2 separate regions of the Homo sapiens genome follow, and region 1 is linked to region 2. The links come from fine-mapping of genetic effects on gene expression. A gene starts in region 2. The other region holds a variant in brackets. All regions are shown on one strand. Distances are between the middles of the regions.

Evidence for each region. PIP is the estimated chance that this variant, and not a neighbour inherited with it, causes the effect.
Region 1: its variant is fine-mapped to the expression of LGR6 in whole blood (TOPMed, PIP above 0.99).

What each region holds. Positions count from the first base shown.
Region 1 is chr1:202,159,590-202,168,840 of GRCh38, reverse strand. PTPN7 (protein tyrosine phosphatase non-receptor type 7) reads left to right here and starts at 8,239. Exons shown (of 10, transcript NM_002832.4): 1 at 8,239-8,296. It also overlaps the pseudogene PTPRVP. RefSeq lists enhancers at 2,447-3,026, 3,670-4,170, 4,750-5,418, 8,949-9,028. The variant T/G (reference allele first, on the strand shown) is at 5,251.
Region 2 is chr1:202,187,776-202,196,960 of GRCh38, reverse strand. LGR6 (leucine rich repeat containing G protein-coupled receptor 6) reads right to left here and starts at 3,162. Exons shown (of 18, transcript NM_001017403.2): 1 at 2,760-3,162. The coding sequence starts at 2,971. It also overlaps the pseudogene PTPRVP. RefSeq lists enhancers at 4,029-4,078, 3,773-4,576 and a silencer at 7,903-7,952.

The DNA.
Region 1 (9,251 bases), 28 kb after region 2:
GGAAAAGGAGGTGCTTTCAGAACCCACTAACAGCCTTTCTGCCTTAAAGAAGAATGGAAGGCCAAAAAAAAGAAAAAGCCAGGGTAGAGCCAGGGTCTGGTGTGGAAAAATTGGCCTCACACCCCCGACTCTTCACCCCCAGAACTCCCTCCCCCGCTGAAGACACCTACCTGCACTCTCCCTGCCTGGACTCCCTTCCAGGGAGAGGCATGCTTCCTCCTGCAGGAAGAAAGGAGGCAGAGAGTTGGGGAAATGGACAGAGGCCTCTGGGAAGGCTACTGGTGGAAGGTGGAAGGGGATTGTGACTCTCAGGCTGCAGACAAGCCCACCTCTTCCTGATGCTGTAGCAGGACGAGCCGCAGACAAAACTCCTCAGACACCAGATTAAAGAAGGAAGAGGCCGGGTGCGGTGGCTCACGCCTGTAATCCCAGCACTTTGGGTGGTGGGGCAGGGCCAGGATCCAAGAGAAGGCTCTGTTGCCGTGTCTGACAGCCCCACACATGGCCAAGGGGCATCTCCCGGAAGCATGCCCATGGCGCATCTGTTCTCCAGGCAGGCTGGAGCAATCTGTTCTCGCTCGCTGCGCCACGTGCTGGCCCTGGTGGAAAGGGAGTGGCCTCTCCTCGCCTAATGCAGACCAGCTGTGGGGTCCCGAGGAGCGCTGGGAGATCTGGATGTGCCCTGGAGAGCGGGGACCCCACCCGCTGGCCTGCTCCCCCATGCCCACCTTACCTCTGCCAGAAAACCCCGGAACCAGAGCAGGGCAGCGAACAGGATTGGGAGCCTCATCCTGATAGCTGCAGAGTAAAGTTGGGAGGCAGCAAGGGGAGGAGCCAGTCCCCTAGCCCACCTTGCCTTGCTTGCTGGCAGGCAAGGAAGGCGGGCATGGGTGGGAAGGGCAGAGTTTCAAGCACAAGCAGGCAGCAGGCAGCAGGCAGCAAAAGCAAGGGGCTGCCTCTTAGCCCCAGAGCCTGACCCCCGCTCTCTCCAGCCTTGGCAAGGCTCTTGAAGGGAGAGAGGCGGAGGCTGGCTCCAGGCCCAGAAGGTGGAAAGGGATTGTGACTCTCAGGCTGCAGACAAGCCCACCTCTTCCTGATGCTGTAGCAGGACGAGCCACAGACAAAACTCCTCAGACACCAGATTAAAGAAGGAAGAGGCCGGGCACAGTGGCTCACGCCTGTAATCCCAGCACTTTGGGAGCCCGAGGCGGGCGGGTCACGAGGTCAGGAGACCGAGACCATCCTGGCTATTATGGTGAAACCCCGTCTCTACTAAAAATACAAAAATTAGCCAGGCATGGTGGTAGGTGCCTGTAATCCCAGCTACTAGGGAGGCTGAGGCAGGAGAATGGCGTGAACCCGGGAGGCGGAGCTTGCAGTGAGCCGAGATCGTGCCACCGCACTCCAGCCTGGGTGATAGAGTGAGACTCTGTCTCAAAACAAAAAAAAAAGAAAGAAGAGGTTTATTCAGCCGGGAGCGTCAGCCGACTTGCGTCTTAAGAGCCGAGCTCCCTGAAAAAGAAATTCTTGGCCTTTTTAAAGGCTTACAACTCTAAGGGGTCCACGTGAAAGGGTCGTGATAAATTGAGCAAGCGTGGGGAACGTGACTGGGGGCTACATGTATCAGCTAACGGAACAGAAAGTTTTGCAGTGCTTTTTCATACAATGTCTGGAATTCACAGATAACACAAGTAGTTTAGGTCAGGGGTTGATATTATTATTATTACTTTTTTAACTCCTAGGGCCGGGTGGTGGTGCTAAGGTTGTCTGGCTACTTAACTTCTGTTTCTTTCCAACTTTTTGCTTTCTCTCTTTCCTCCTGTCTTGTGAACTAGGCAAGGTGAGGGGGAGGAGGGAGGGCAGCAGAAGTAGTAGTGGTCTCCTTCCTTAATGCCTCCCCTACCTGTAGCCCACTCCCAGCCCTCAGCTCTCCAGGGAGGAAAGTGTCCTGTGCTCTTGGGGAAGACCAAGAGGAGAGGTGGCTCTGCAAATGGACACATTTGCAGCTGGCTGTCCCACTCCTTGGCTCTGGAGGAGGGGCACAGTGTCTGTTGACTCCATCACCGAGTGCGAGATAGATAGTGTTTCTGTGGGGGTGCGTGTGGTCTTGGTGACACCATGTGGATGTGTGTTCCTGTGTCCTAGGTGGATGGCCAGCTGAGTGTGTGTCTCCTTTTGTATATCCATGTGGTACCACGCTCTTGTGGACAGAAGCACATACTTTGGCTGCTGAGTCACAGCAATTGTAGATCTAGAGCCCACCTGGCCCTTGGGCCTCCTCTGGTCCCACCTCATCACTGCCAGATGAGGAAGCTGATAACCAGAGAGGGGAAGAGCCCAAGTGTCTGAACAGAAAAGCTGGGCTTGAACCTGGGACCTCGGACTCCATAGAACAGAGATGGCAGACCCTGCTCCAAACCTCCCAAATTGGGGTCCTCTCAGCTGGGAATCCTCTGAGGAGCAATTCAAGTACCTGGGACTTTTGCTTGCCTTCCCCCACTTCTTTTCCCCGAATCAGCAGCGTCCATCCTGGTTCCCCTGCCCCTCCCAACCCCCACCTGGCTTTGGGCACTGCTGGAACCCAGGCAAGCCTGCCTGAGGCCTGGCCTCAAAGATAATGAACTTGGGGCTTTGCTTTACTCCTGACTAGAGCCCTTGAGTCACCCCGAGCTGCTCACCCAGGTGCTCCCACCTACAGACAGCTGAGGATGAGGAGTGAGAATGGAAGAAAAGGCTTTGGGCCCTGGGAGTGAAGCCCAGGACTCAGAACAAACTCAGGTAGTGGGGAGAGGGGATGTGTGGAAAACACACAGGTATAGAAGTCTGAACACCAACGCAGCCTCTGTGGTAGCTGGATTCTCCTGGGCCTGCCCCAGCAGGGAGGACAAGCCTGCCTCCAAGACCAGCTCAGCCCAGCTCCCTGCTCAGGCCACAGCCAGGGGCTGCTTGCTCCTCCCCCGCTCCACCTAGCCCCAAACCTCAGAGCCGCCCACCCGGCCCCTGGATGGGGGCCTGGAAACTCAGCACTGCAGACTCAGGAGATTTTCCAGGCCGTGTGTGCGCCTGCGCATATGTGCTCTTTTGAAAGGCGGGGGCGGCGGGCGGGGGAAGGTTGCAACCAGGGAAACTGATGTGAAAGGGAAGAGGTCCCAGTCTGGCCAAGAGGTGGCGGAAACATCGTACCTTCTCATCCCACCCTCATCCCACCTCACCTGGGGACATCTCACTCTGTTCTTTCTGGTAGCCTTGATCAGCAACCAAGAAGGGGAGAGGCGGGGTGGAGGCGCCCTAATTCGGAATCTAAGGAGAAGAGACACACAGGACACATGCCTAGGTAGAGGCAGAGTGTGTCAGAACCTGCTCAAGAGTCCCCACAAAAAAGCGGTCTGCGGGGCCCAGCACAGACTCCATAGCTAGTCCTTTGGACGGAGCCTTGAGGAGGCACCTGGCCCTAAGATGCACAGCTGCCAGCCCCCAGCGCAGCCTAGGGGACCGGGAGACAGGGCCCCTAGAGGTTCTGATAAATAAGCTGGGCATGGTGGCTCATGCCTGTAATCTCAGGACTTTGGGAGGCCAAGGTGGGCGGATCACCAGGTCAGGAGATCAAGACCATCCTGGCCAAAATGGTGAAACCTCGTCTCTACTAAAAATACAAAAAATTCGCTGGGTGTGGCGGCACATGCCTGTAATCCCAGCTACTCGGGAGGCTGAGGCAGGAGAATCACTAGAACCAGGGAGTTAGAGGTTGCAGTGAGCTGAGATGGCACCACTGCACTCCAGCCTGGTGACAGAGTGAGACTCCGTTTCAAAAAAAATAAAATAAATAAGCAGCAGCCTCCCCAGCCCAAACGTCTCCATTCAGCAAAAGAAAAGGTACCACGAGGGCTGTATCTCCTCCCCAGCAACCACCCCCACAGACAAACCCACATCCTCTCCCTAGAGAACCCCTGGGGTTCCCCCCCGCTACCCTGAGGTCTCAGGGCACCTTACTGATTCCTTCTGGAGAGAGCCAGCCAGGAGGCAGAGGAGAGAGCAAGGGGCAGGTCTGGGAGTGCTGGCTTCCAAATGTGAACTGGCCTGGCCTACAGCTGTCCCAGGCAGCGCTCTTCCGGCCCCTCCCTGCTCTCCCACAGCCTGAAGCCTGGCCTTGGGCAGCCCCCACACTGGAGGAAGATAATCACCGGGCAGCAGAGGGGCAGGGTGGCTCAGGACAGCCAAGTCGCCCACTCCCCCTGCTGCCTATACTATGGGGAAGGTGGCCAGGGAGTGGGGGAAGGCCTAGGTCCCCCTGACCAGGCCATGGGAGAGCAGGGGAGGGGCTGGTCATGTGTGGATTGACACTGTGCATGTGCATTTGTGCAAACGTGGGCCATGAGGGTGTACACACCTGTCTGGATGGATGTATGAGTGGGTGTCCGGGGACAACACAGAGCGGGAGGGAGACGGGAGCCCCTGGGAAGAAAAGGCCACATTGTAGAATAGATGTCCATTTGGCTGGCTCTGGGCTTGGGAGAGAGGGAGGGACTCTTCTATCCTAAAACCTTCCTGCCAGGGTCCTGAGTTCCAGCATCGGGCAAAGAACCAGGCACTTTCCTGGACCTCCTGGCAGGCTGGCCCTGGCATCCCAGTGCCAAGCAGGGCTGGATTACTGGTCCTCTCAGCCAGGGGTAAAGGGTATGGGATGTTCCCCTTCATCCAAAAGGTAGCAGGAGGTCCCTAGCTGGCCCGGCACAGGGTTGAAGCTTTGAGACAGGGGTGCAGTTGTCACTCTGGTCAGCCTGGACTTATCCCATGCCCTTAACAGCACTTCCCTGCCCCACTCACCCTGTCTCCCCTGCTGTCTCCCTGCTTCCTGTGGGATGAGGCTTCCCAGATCCAGTTCTTGGTGTTTCTGTCTCCCCGACACAAACAGGAACAAGCCAGGGCCTACAAAGTTGGGGCAGAACAAGCCAGCTCAGGCTGGCCTAGGGTTTTGGGGGTGGGAAGGATGGAGGAACAGCCACCCGAGATCCTAGTGCTTCTCCAGAGAGGAGCCGAGGAGGGCAGCTAGGAAGGGGGCAGAGCAGCTGGAGTGTGCAGGACCCAGCAGTCCTGGCCCCAGGCAGCTGACTCTCTCCCCAGGATCCTCCCCTTGGATTGTTAAAAGGTGGCAGCCTTTGCCTCTGGGGGCCAACTGCTCCCCAGCAAGGAGCTCCCTACTCCCTAGGGGCTGGCAAAGAGCAACGACTTCTGGGAATTCCAGATGTAATG[T/G]CCGCCTTTCCCCGGGCCTGGGCTAGGGAGGGGGGCGCTTCTGACACTTGGGGCAGGGAGCTGCGGCTCACAGCCCTGGAACTGGGAATCACTAGAGGGGAAAACAAGAGAGTCAAGACGTGTGTGGCCAGAGCTTGGGAGGGCTGAGGGCACCCACCACAGCCTCAGATGGGACAAGGCTGACTCTCAAGATGCATCATGCCCTGCACCAGTCCCTCCCCAGCCTGGCCTGGTGGCTTGGGACACCCCTCTTTGTCCTCCCTGGAGTGGACTCTGTCCCACCCGGGATGCTGGGAGACCCCTGGGAGTGACTCCTTCCTGCACTTCCTCAGTGCTCGGCTGGAAGTGCCCCGGCAGCCCGGGTTCAGGGAGAAAGTCAGCAGTGAGGAGGAAGAGGGAGGCTGGTGAGAGGTGAGACCCGGCAGCCATGACCTCCTCACCCTGTGCTGCTCCCAGACCCACTTCCCCAGCCAGCTCCTCCCAGCTCCTCGGTCCTCTGGCTGCTGACTCCCAACCTCTCCTCCGTGAGCAAAGCACACCATGGGCTGACAAGGGAGGTGCTATGATCATCCCCCAGTGGAGGGAGGAAGCTGAGGAGGAGCCTGAGACTCAGCAATTTGCCCAAGGTCACACAGTTAATAAGCTACGTTTAGACTCATTATGCATAGATCTTTCTGATTTCCAACTATTACTATACTTTCTCTGGAGTCGAGGGTGGCTAGAACCTAAATCTCAACCCAGGAACACAAATCGATTCGAGTGATGGAAGTTTGAGAGCTGCTGTGACCTTTTGGCCCCAGGGGTGGGAAGGTTCTGGAGGGGAGAGGGAGTCACGCCCAGGAGCCTTCCAACAGCCCGGATGGGACAGAGTCCACTCCAGAGAGGGCAGAGAGGGGCGTCCCAAGTCACCAGGCCAGGCTGGGGAGGGGGAGGTGCAGGGCGATGACGCATGTCTTGTGCCATCTGAGGTTGCAGTTGGCATCCTCAGCCCTCATGAGCTCTGGCCACACACCTCCATGGATGTCCAGGTATCCCTAAGCACAGGGGAAGAAGGAGTGGGCAGGAGCCAAGGAGTGACTGTCCCCTCTACCCCACATCCACCCAGAGGGAACAGGGGATCTTTGAGAGGTCTTGCCTAATGCTCAGCCACTACCCCCACCCCCAACCCCAACTATCTTCCCCATCGCCTGGCTCCCAGCTTCCTTGCTGTGAAGCTCAGCTTCCAACTGTCCAGCCACTGCTAGGCCTCAGTCTGTGGGGGAAAGGGGTGGGCTCACAGCCAACAGGGCTCAGACCCTGGAAACTTGGGGGGACCAGGCAGACCTGTGTGGGGAGGGCTTTGCCGCTTCCTCCTCCCACCCCTGTGGTGTCCTAGCTTCCTGTTCTTGATAACAATCAGCATAGGCTCAGAGCCGGGCCCTCTTTCCAACCCCCACCTGCCCCCTCCTGTGTCCCCAGGGCCCCCACTACCCACCAGTGGAAACACTGACTGGTGTGGGGGGTGAGGCAGAGGCCAGTCTCCAGGTCACTGCTCGCAAGCATGTTAGGGATTCCCAGGTTCCTGCTTCCCTCCAGTCTGTCCTGAGCACGGGAACCAACCCCTTTCCCAGCCCTAATCGGCCTCCTCCTCAGGGAAACCCACCCACTCCGGAGAGGAACGCAGGCTGCAGGGAAGGAGGTGCCAGGATCAGCTGGCCATGGAGGGGCTCAAAAAAGAGCCAGCCCCTGTCCCCACTGCCAAGAGCAAGGGCGGGTGCTGGGAGGCCTTCTGAGCCTCTGGGGGCTGTTCTTGTTCTTCGTCTCAACCCTCCTCCTCAAGGGGCCAGCAGAAGGCCAGCCCCCTCCCGACCACCCCCTCCGGCATGCCTACCCCCTGTGCCTAGGGTACCTCATTTCTTTTTTGCTGTCACCATTTGACAGCTGAATCAGGGAAGTGGGAGGAAGAAAGAGGACGTGGATTGTGCATGTTGGGGGCCGGGAAGGGAAGGGCGTTTGAAATGTTACAAGGTAAAAGGAGGCGTGCAGCGAGCATGAACCGGCTGGGCTGCTGGCCCGCAAGGAGCCTGCCAAGGTCAGGCAGGGGCAGTGGGCAGAGGAGTCTTGGACTTGGGGGCCACCCTTCAGGTCCCAGGCATCCAGGCACCCCAGCAGCGAAGAGGACATGGGAGTCCCCTGGTGTGAGGGCCAGAGACTGTCCACTGTCTGTAAGTCTTCTAAGTAGATGTCAGGGTTCTGGGAGGAGGCCTGCAGGGGGCTGAGGGCCCAGGGGAAGCCCCTCGGACTCCCTCCCACAAGTGGACTCTGCTATCTGCTTCCTGCTGGGCTGGCCTACACTCAGGCCGTGGGCTGTGGAGAGCTGGGCCGTGGCACAGGCGTGGAGACGACCTTTTTGGCCTGGCCCCGGCCCTTTCCTTCACATTGTGAGGCATGGATTCTTGCTTCTTCTTTTTCCCCACCCCGAGTCTGTGCCACATCTGCTCTGGGAAGATGTGGTCTGTGCTTGGCCATGAATTCCCAAGGCTTGAAGCAGCAAGGGCTTTGAGGGAGAGGGCCTTGAGGGAGAGGGCCTTGAGGGAGAGGGCTGTGGGGCAGAAGCAGAGAAGGAGAAATAAGCCTCCGGCCAAGGTCAGGTTGAGCAGGAGAGCCTTGGGTTCTTTGTGGGACAGCACAGAGCTGGGGGTCAGGCGAGCTGTGCCCAGCAAGTAGGCAGCGGCTGGATGTGACAAAGACCCAGAGGAGAAACACAGAAGAGGGGAGAGGGTCTGGAAGCTGGGGAAAGCAGGATGGTCGGGAAGGCCTGGCCCCTCACCCATTCCCAGGGAACGGGGCCTTGGGCCCCAGAAGGGCACAGGCGGGAGGCAGCCGACCCCTGGTGGCAGCGGCAGCAGGCACAGGAGGGCAGAATGCAGCTGGGGTGTGCGTGGGTGGCAGCAAGGAGGGGCGGAGGGAGGAAGCTGGCTTCCTGGAGCCTTCTCAGCCCTCAAAGACAGACCGACAGACAGACAGACAGCTGGCAAGAGGCAGCCTGGGGGCCACAGCTGCTTCAGTAAGTATCTGAAGGGGGGACTGGGAGTCCTGTGGCCCCGGGGGGTGCGAACTCCGGGGATATAAGAGGGCATCTCTAGGAGGGAGTGCGGGAGGGCGAGTGGGGCGCCACAGTGCCTGGCTGGGGTATGGGTGCTCACAGACCTGATGTCCCCAAGACGGGGGTGAGCAGGGAAGCCACAGGGAGCTACAAGGAGAGCAGAGGCTGAAGGGACCTTTTCTGCTACCAGAGACCCTCGCTCTACCACTCACACCTGTGCCAGGCCCATTCTGTCCCCTCACCTCCGTCCCTGCTGCCTTGGTGATTCAACACCCCCGCCACCTCGCCCACTGTGACCCTGGCTCTGGGAGATAGGGACTGCCCCCAAGAGGAGATGGTCCCACCACCTCCATGCCTCCTGTCTTGCCCCCAGCTGTCGCCTCACCATGCGCTGTCGTTCAAGGGCTTGGTGAGGCCATTTCCTGTGACGGTTACAGAGGCGGGAGACGGGGGGATGGGCAGGAGGAGGAAGGAAACACCTCCAGCCTACCTCCCTGGACAGAGACCCCAGAAGCCAGAAACAGACCTGGGAGTGGAACAGCAGCAGTTAGGAGAGGACCCTGCTGGGGTCCAGGAGCCCGCCTGCCTGGCTGCCCAACCAGCTCCAACACTGCTGGAGGCCTCCATTCTCTGTTCAGGGGAAGGCCCACTGGTTAGCTCAGAGATGGCTTCTGCGTGCTTTCTCCCTTCCGTCCTAGAGAACACATATTTTCTGTTTCCTCCCTTGCCTTCTCCCACTTGGACCTGCTCAGAGCCCTGTGTACTCTGGTGTGTGGCCTCTCTCCCCTCTCTCTTTTCCTCCTTCTGGATTCTTTCCTATCTTCATCCACAATCTCTACCCTTTATCTTGCCGTTACTCTACCCCGAGACTGCCTTCTGCCCTGGGTCCCACCAAATAGATCCTGTCCTTCCCTTA
Region 2 (9,185 bases):
CACTCTCCCTCCCGATCCCCAACCCCCAATTTTCACCAACTGGTTGGGCTCCAAGTCCCCAGAACCAGCCAAGTATTGATCAAGAGTTGCCCTGACAGTCACCTCCCCAGCACACAGCTCTCTTCCTCCAGCCACAAACCATTCCCTTGAATTCTACACTCACCCACTAGGCTCAATTTTCTTCTGGTGTGGAGAGGCCTGGTAGTTTACCTCCACCTCCATGGAGCACCCATAGGAGGCATGATAATACTAGCCACCATTTCAGAGTTACCCTCGGGTGTCAGGCACTCTGGGGACTTTCATTGAACATATTATCTCATTTAATCCACTCAGCAACCTGCTTCCTCATCTCCATGTACACATGAAGAACCTGAGGCTTAGAGGTGTTCAGTGAGTGATTCTCAGTAGGTGGCAGAGCTAGGAAGGAACCAAAGTTTGAGTGGCTCAGAGAGAGGCACTGCTGATTATATCATCAGATGCGAATCTGTGCTCTCCTCAGCAAGGGCTGGGATACATGGGGCAGGGCCAAGCTGGACATCTCCTAACATCGCTGAAAAGAGAAAGGAGCCCCAAGACTTCCCCACCCTGGCTCTTCTGCATGCCAGCTCTCAACCCCACCTTCAGGTGCCTTTCTGGTAGAGCTGTTCTCCAGAGAGGGCAAAGAAAGAAAATTCCTCCTCTGAGACACCCTCAGGACAACTGTAGGAATCCTTCATGCACCATCCAGATGGGACCCCTCCCCAGCCCAGGGCAGGGGACACGGTCCTCTGCCACCTCCTTCCAATATTCCAGACCCCACTGCTAAATTCCCCATATTGCCTCAGGACCCATCATACTCTTTATAGCTCCCACTCCCTCTCTTCTCTCCACAACTCTCAGAAGCATCCCCTGAGTCTTGAGAGAGAGGGGCTTTCTCAATCCCCAGGAAGACACAGACCAGCTCAGAAAACCCCACCTCCACTGAACCCAAATGCAGACTTCACAGCTCCGAGGGAATTGTGGCAAGCTAGTGGGAAAAACTTCTGCCAGCATGGATGGTAGGATGCTTGAATTCCAAAGGTGACAGTGTACCTCCTTCCCCAAGTCCTTCTAGAAAAAGGGTCATTAACCAGTCTAGGAAGACTTAATGCTGGGAAAGGAAGCTCTGGAAGGCCTTATCTCCCCTGCCCCTTCAACCCAGGCAAGGGACCTTCCTTCAGCTCACCCAGAGAAAGGCTCCACAGAAGTCACATCTAAACTCTTTAGCCACAGGACCCTGTCTTCAAATGAACCAATGTCACATACTCCCAGGATAGAAAACTGCTGAAAGAGGGGCTGGCCTGTGTGTAGGGTGGGGCCGGAGCCTGCCCTGCTTTGCCAGATGCTGAGCGCCCAGGCTCTGTGCAGTTGGTACCTTTATTCCCATGATTGCCTCTGCCGTCACCTACTGCACTGTGAAGGATTCCATTTGTCCTTCTAGATGGACATTATTTTTCTCTTCCCACTCCCTTACCTGGCCCACAGCCTGTGCCTTTTGGAGTGGAGGGGGACATCCCAACCTGGGGACAGGGACATTTGGAGAGGAGCCCCATGAAGAGTTGCCCTCTGGGACCCTCTACCTCCCACCAGGACACTCCCAACACTGAGCATCTTTAGTTCCACAAATTCTTGCTAGGCCCCTATAAAGATTCACCCAGCCTCCTCTTCCTCTAAGCTCCCATGTGCTGGAACCCCAAAGCCATAAGGAGCCTCTCTCAGGCCAGAAGGAACTCTGGGATCCTAGCCCTCAGCAGAAGGCCCCACCAGGCTTTCCCACCTGCTCCCAGCTCCTCTGAGGAAGTTGATAGAGCCTGCAGAGCTGGGCTGGAGGAGGTTTCCTTGCCCCAGAGCGGGGCTGGGGGTGCAGGTGGGTGGCCTGGAATGTGCTCTCTCACCCTCCTCCTGCCCAGGTGGTGAGCAGCCAGAGCCCCCAGCCCTCCAGCTCTGAGGGGAAGCTCCCATGAGCCAGACAGACAGGACAGCTGCCCCCAGTAGGGTCCCCTTCACGCGCCATCTCACCCCAACTCAGACGCTAAAAATGGTTCTCTGGTTTTCAGCCTCGGCGCCTGCCCACAAATTAGTGTCTCCAACACAGCCTCTTGGGACATGACTTTAGGGAGGCCCCTGGGGGAGCCAGGAGGCCCCAGTGAAGGGAGATGGTGCTGGCAGAGTCCCTTTCTGAGGAGACAAGAGTGGATAAGGCCCCCCTCCCAGCTTCTAGGAAACCCGCCCCCCCCGCCCCCACGAAGGCCACCCAGCCTCAGTGTGACAGCCCTGTTGTCCTCACCATGGCAGAAGAACAGACATTATTTCCACCCTACTGGGGCACGCTCCCCTCACCTCCACCTCCAGTTCTGTCAGCTTTACCCTCAGCCACCATCCCGGGCACTGCTCTGCTAGAAGAGAATGCAGCAACAGGAGATGGAGCAGCCAGCCCCGCGCCCTCCCGCTCAGGGTCCAGAACCCACCTCGCCAAGCCTGGGCTCCCATAGTCAGCCCACAAGCACGGAGGCCAATGGGGAAGCCAAGTCAGGGAAGCCCGGTCTCCCTGCTCGCCTGGTATTTAGTCTCAGACTCTTCTCCCCTCCCCAGTCCCGCAACGGTCAACTTGGAAGGGGGCAAACCCTCTCCGGGATGCCCATGCCCCAGGGCACCAAGCAAGCAGGTGCCCTGCTGAGGCCGGGACTGGGCGCTAGCCAGCAGCCCGCAGGACCAGGCGGGGACAGGCGGGCAGTACTCACAGGTAAGCCGTCAGGGGGTCCAGGTCCCCCGGAACGGCGGACAGCCCGAGCTCAGAGCAGTCGGCAGACAGCATGATGCCGTCCTCCTGGCAGTGGCAGGGGGCCGGGCAGGCGGTGGGCCCCGGGCCGGGCTGGGGGGCGCCGCCGGCCCTCCGGGAAGCGCACAGCGCGGCGCAAAGCCATAGCGCCCGGAGCCCCGGCGGGCTGGGCATCTCGGCGGTCGGGCTACTGGGGCACCTGGCGGCCGGGCGCGGACGCACGGCGCGATGGCCGCAGCTGCTTCCTCCCGGTCCCGGCGGGCTGCACCGTCGGTGGGGACCGCCCCAGGGGCTCTATTGGGCGGCGGCGGCGGCGGTGGGAGCGCCGGGACGGTGCAGTCAGAGAGGGGCAGGCATTGTTGAGTGATCTTCGTTATTCAGTTTCACAGGCTGGGCTTGGCAAGGGAGGGAGACCCAGCCGGAGGAGGAGTCAAGGAAACTTTCTACACTGCGGCTCGCTCCTCTTCCCTCCTTCCTTCGGAGCTGGCAGGAATTTCATCCAGGAAAGAAAAAAAAAAAAGGAAGAAAGCAAAGAAACCCAAGCGAGCAAAGCTCAGCCCGTCAGAGACCTGCATTTGTTTGGATAGGGTGTCCCAGGGCCTTGGCCGCAGGGCTGGGGACCCTCTTGCCTTTGGGGACAGCCACGAGGTCACATGGGACCCAGAGGAGGTCTCTGAAAGAGGCCTTGGGGCTCCCATTGCCCCTCATGCCTCCACCACGTTTCACACTGCAGGAAACTGAGACCCAAGAGGCAAAATGATTTGTTCAAGGTGACACAGCTGATGGGACATCCCCAGAGCTGGAACTCGTCCACCCTCCCTGGCCTGTCTGCTAGGACAGGAGAGAGGGGAGTGAGGGGCTACCCTGGAAGAGGCCAGGCTGCGGAGGGTTCCACTGCAGGCTGGGATGACCCGACGGTGGGCAACCAGGAGCAGTCTCCTCACTGAGAGGCCGGGCCTTGACTCCAAAGAAACGGGTGTGGAGTTACACCCGCTGAGTGCACCCTGGGTGGAAATGCACTCCTGCAGCCTCTGTCAGGTTTACGGCCTGGGGACCACCTTGATCCCTGCTCCCAGGACCTCGGGAGTCTGAGGGACTGTGGGCAGCTCAGCTGGTTGTCAGAGCCCACCTCAAAGTAAGCGGATTGGTGCCACCTGGAGGCCGGGTGCTGCACCTGCAGCTCAGCCACCCTGAGGCTGGAATCCCACCAAGTGGCTGACCTGGGCCGGCCCCAGAGCCCTGGAGAGCAAAGGGCATGGTGGTTAAAACTGAGGTCAATCCCTGTTCTCTCCTTAGACCATAGTGAGCTGGCTGTGCTTCCTTCATGCAGCCTCTTGCTCTCTCTGGTCTCTCCCATGCTGAGCCAAGCCCCCGCGCAGAGCTAGAGCAGGCTGTGGGCCCCCCTCCTTCCTTTTTTTGCCCTATCTCCCCATGGTCCAGCCAGAGGGTATACTAGAAACCTGGGACCTCAGAGGCATCCAGGATTTCTTCCACCCTGTCTTTCCACATGCCAGGATCCTCTCATCAACACCTCTCCACTCTCCCAATAACCTCCCAGGGCTAGAGGGGCTGCATAGCTGGACCAAGAAATGAGCAGACCTTGACCCTAGGCCTCCAGTTGGTGCCATGGCGCTGAAAGTAGAAGACGAGCCTCCGCTCTCGCTCTCCCTCTCCCTCTCCCCTCTTTCCACGGTCTCCCTCTGATGCCGAGCCGAAGCTGGACTGTACTGCTGCCATCTCGGCTCACTGCAACCTCCCTGCCTGATTCTCCTGCCTCAGCCTGCCGAGTGCCTGCAATTGCAGGCGCATGCCGCCACGCCTGACTGGTTTTCGTATTTTTTGGGTGGAGACGGGGTTTCGCTGTGTTGGCCAGGCTGGTCTCCAGCTCCTAACTGCGAGTGATCCGCCAGCCTCGGCCTCCCGAGGTGCCGGGATTGCAGACGGAGTCTCCTTCACTCAGTGCTCAATGGTGCCCAGGCTGGAGTGCAGTGGCGTGATCTCGGCTCGCTACAACATCCACCTCCCAGCAGCCTGCCTTGGCCTCCCAAAGTGCCGAGATTGCAGCCTCTGCCCGGCCGCCACCCCGTCTGGGAAGTGAGGAGCGTCTCTGCCTGGCCGCCCATCGTCTGGGATGTGAGGAGCCCCTCTGCCTGGCTGCCCAGTCTGGAAAGTGAGGAGCGTCTCTGCCCAGCCGCCATCCCATCTAGGAAGTGAGGAGCACCTCTTCCCGGCCGCCATCCCATCTAGGAAGTGAGGAGCGTCTCTGCCCGGCTGCCCATCGTCTGAGATGTGGGGAGCGCCTCTGCCCTGTCGCCCCGTCCGGGATGTGAAGAGCGTCTCTCCCCGGCCGCCCCGTCTGAGAAGTGAGGAGACCCTCTGCCTGGCAACCGCCCTGTCTGAGAAGTGAGGAGCCCCTCCGCCCAGCAGCCGCCCCGTCTGAGAAGTGAGGAGCCCCTCCGCCCGGCAGCCACCCCGTCTGGGAAGTGAGGAGCGTCTCCGCCCGGCAGCCACCCCGTCCGGGAGGGAGATGGGGGGGTCAGCTCCCCGCCTGGCCAGCCGCCCCGTCCGGAAGGGAGGTGGGGGAATCAGCCCCCCGCCCGGCCAGCCGCTCGGGAGGTGAGGGGCGCCTCTGCCCGGCCGCCCCTACTGGGAAGTGAGGAGCCCCTCTGCCCGGCCAGCCGCCCCATCCGGGAGGGAGGTGGGGGGGTCAGCCCCCCGCCTGGCCAGCCGCCCCGTCCGGGAGGTGAGGGGCGCCTCTGCCCGGCCGCCCCTACTGGAAAGTGAGGAGCCCCTCTGCCCGGCCAGCCGCCCCGTCCGGGAGGTGTGCCCAACAGCTCATTGAGAACGGGCCAGGATGACAATGGCGGCTATGTGGAATAGAAAGGCGGGAAAGGTGGGGAAAAGATTGAGAAATCGGATGGTTGCCGTGTCTGTGTAGAAAGAGGTAGACATGGGAGACTTTTCATTTTGTTCTGTACTAAGAAAAATTCTTCTGCCTTGGGATCCTGTTGATCTGTGACCTTACCCCCAACCCTGTGCTCTCTGAAACATGTGCTGTGTCCACTCAGGGTTAAATGGATTAAGGGCGGTGCAAGATGTGCTTTGTTAAACAGAGGCTTGAAGGCAGCATGCTCGTTAAGAGTCATCACCACTCCCTAATCTCAAGTACCCAGGGACACAAACACTGCGGAAGGCCGCAGGGTCCTCTGCCTAGGAAAACCAGAGACCTTTGTTCACTTGTTTATCTGCTGACCTTCCCTCCACTATTGTCCTGTGACCCTGCCAAATCCCCCTCTGCGAGAAACACCCAAGAATGATCAATTAAAAAAAAATAATAAATAAATAAATAAATAAAAGAAGACGAGCCTCCTAGGAAGGCCAGAGGATGGGCCTACATGACCAGAAAGACCCACAGATAGAGCCACCTCTGCCCTATGGAAGAAAGCTACCGCAGGCCAGCCTGCACTTCCTTCACTCAACCATAGCCTCGGCTCCATCTCATTTGCAGCTCCTGCTGCTCCAATGTGAGATCTTCCCAGAGTGGAAAAGCCATGGTTGAGCCCTGTTTCAACCTCAGCAGCAGCTGCTTGAGACAGACTTGGGCAGCTCAGAGCAGAGCCTCCAGCCTGCTTTTATGAGGGTCATTAGGGGGCCCACCCTCAGCTCCTGATAAACATGGCATATGGAGGACACTGACATTTAGTCCTCCTGGGAGGGCACCAGTGCTTTAGTCTCATTCTGGGAAAGCTCCCGGCTGAGCAGCCAGCACGACCTCTGTACCCTTCTTCAACCAGCCCTGAGAAGGACCCTCCACTGACTTCTGACCCGTTGCACCTTAGTAGGAACTCAGGTTGGCCAAAGAGCTCTCCCCTCTTCCCCTTGGGGAGACCCAACTCCACTTCAGGGACTCTTGCTCTGATCTGTCCAGGTTTTCTCTGTGTCCTCCCAGGGCCTTCCACCAGGGGCAGTTAAGGTCCAGCATCAGGCACTGCACCTGGAAACTCCCAGCCTGACCAGGGAGGGAGGCAGGAGCTCATGTGGCCACCAGCAATCACGCACATGGTATGCAGTGCAGTCCTAGAGTGTGTGGGACAGACAGCTGCCTCCCCGCCCTCTTTTCTGGTCTCTGCTGCTCCTCCTGGTTTTTCCTTTCTCCATATGCCCTCCCTGCTTTCTCCTCCACCTCCTCCTATGTGGAGGGGAGGAAGGAGGAGAGAGCAAAGGAGCAGGGAAAACTTGGCACCTCCGCCTGAGGGGTGCCTCCAGCGCCTGCCTTCTGAGTAACAGGGTAGCTCTGGCACCTCCATCCTGGTGGGGGCTGAGGGTGGCCCCTGGGGGCTCTGGCAGGTAGAGAAGGCTGGGGATGGCAGGAGAAGGGAAGTGGGAAACAGGATAAACCCTACTGCATACAGCGTGGTGCGTACAGGGTGGTGGGGCAGAGGACGAACAATTTGGAGCTGTGATTCTGAATCCAGGGCTTAGCACCACAGGAAACTAGACGTGGAGAGACCAAAGTCTGAGGATATTTAGAAACTGAAGGATTAGCAGGGAGAGGATTGCTTCAGGGGAAAAACCAACACCATAGGGGCCATAGGTCACCTAGTTCAACCAGACTCCAGGTCCTAGCTTCCATCCCGGCTCCACGTTTGCCCACAAGACCCACACACGGGGCCCAGGTCTGAGGACGGACAGACAGAACACACTGAGCTTCACGCTTGGCCACAGGTCTTTATTCCAAGACCCTTTACCTTTGCAGCACAGGGCCCAGTGGAGGCCGCCCTTCTGGGGAGCCCAGGCCCACGTGGATGTGTCAGGAATGCTGTCCCCATCCCACAGGGCACAAACCTCTCCTGCACAGTGACCAGTGCCGACTCAGGGGCAGCCCGTCTGCCAGTGCGCTGTTCAGACAATTGTAGAGGTAGATATACTGCTTCTGGAGATGGACATAGGGTTAGGAGGCTCGCCCCGCCTGCCCCAATCTAACAGAAAAGGGCTCCCTTGTGTGTCCCAACCCCTAGGGCTCCATCTGGGAGAATGCACAGAGGTCCACAGCGCCACCTGGTGGCTACCCGGGTGGTGCTGCCTAGAGGCCTGGGCAGAAGCTCCCTCACCTCCCACCCCTTCCCACAGCTGAGCCCCCACGCCCCCACCCCAGCCCCATCGCCTCTCACCAGCGTTGGGGTCATAAGGTCACAGGCCTGAGACTGCTGCAGGGCCACGTTAAAGACATCCACGGTGCACTCAGACCCTGCCTGCTGCAGCAGCTGCTCCATGGCCAGGAAGGTGCCCAGCTGGGTCGCACCCTTGCTGCAACTGACCTAGAGTTGGATGAGGTACCTAAAGGGGGTGTGGCAGGGGTGTCCGGGGATGTGGCGGGGGTGTCCGGGGATCTGCAAAAATCCAACCTGGGTGCAGGGACTGAGAAGGGACACCGAACACTTGGTCAGCCAGCCAGCCAGCCTGGGCCCAGGGAGGGAGGCGGTAAATTCCCACCATATTCCTGAGGACAGGGTAGGGTGTGGGGAAGACAGGGGCATTGTGAGACTGTGTCCTTTTGGCCCATAACCCAAGCAGGGCCCAGGGAGATCTGAGGCTATGCCAGAGGGGCAGGGAGGGGCTTCCAGTGTCCACTCCCCCAAGACCATTGTCCAGCAACACCTGGAGTGGCTGAGCAGTGTGCCCGGCTTCTTGCTGTTGCCCCGAGAGCAGCACTGGCCCACAGCAGCCAGGAAGGGCAGCAGGGTGGTGGCGGGCAGCTCATGCCCAGGCTCCAGGTATGGAAACTGCAGTCTCTGCACCTCCCTTTCCTTCCTACTCTCCCCCTCGGGCAAAGACATGATCGGCATTGGTGCTGGAGAGGGCAGAGGGAGCCCACACAGGACTCTTCTCCCACACACCACCCCATGCCCTGTGGCCCCAACACCTACATGTGTGACCCTGAAGAGGGCACAGAGCCAGCCCACTGTGCTGCTCTCGGCCACCCAGTGCACTGTCACCATGTCTGTGACTATGGGCTGCATCTCCATTGGCCAGAATTCCTGTGGCTGGGACCAAGTTAGGGCTGCTCAGGCAACTTCCTGAGATCTCTGCCCCTGCCCTGGTTAGACAGCACCACAAACTACCCGCCTCCAACCTCAGCCCTAACTCCTGAGCCTCCCTTCCTCTGTCCTCTGCACTCTCACCTTCTCCATGGCATCGAGTGGGCACAGAGAGACAAGCACATGAGCCCCGTGCTGCCACACCAGCTCCCAGAGCTCCTCTGGCCCTGCGAGGCCAGTCAGCACCATATGATCACAGCCAGAGGGCCCACCCTGCAGAGCACAGCTCATTGGCTTCCAGAGACTGAGGGTGTCCCCTGCCCAGCCCACAACTCTGGGAGCCCCCAGCA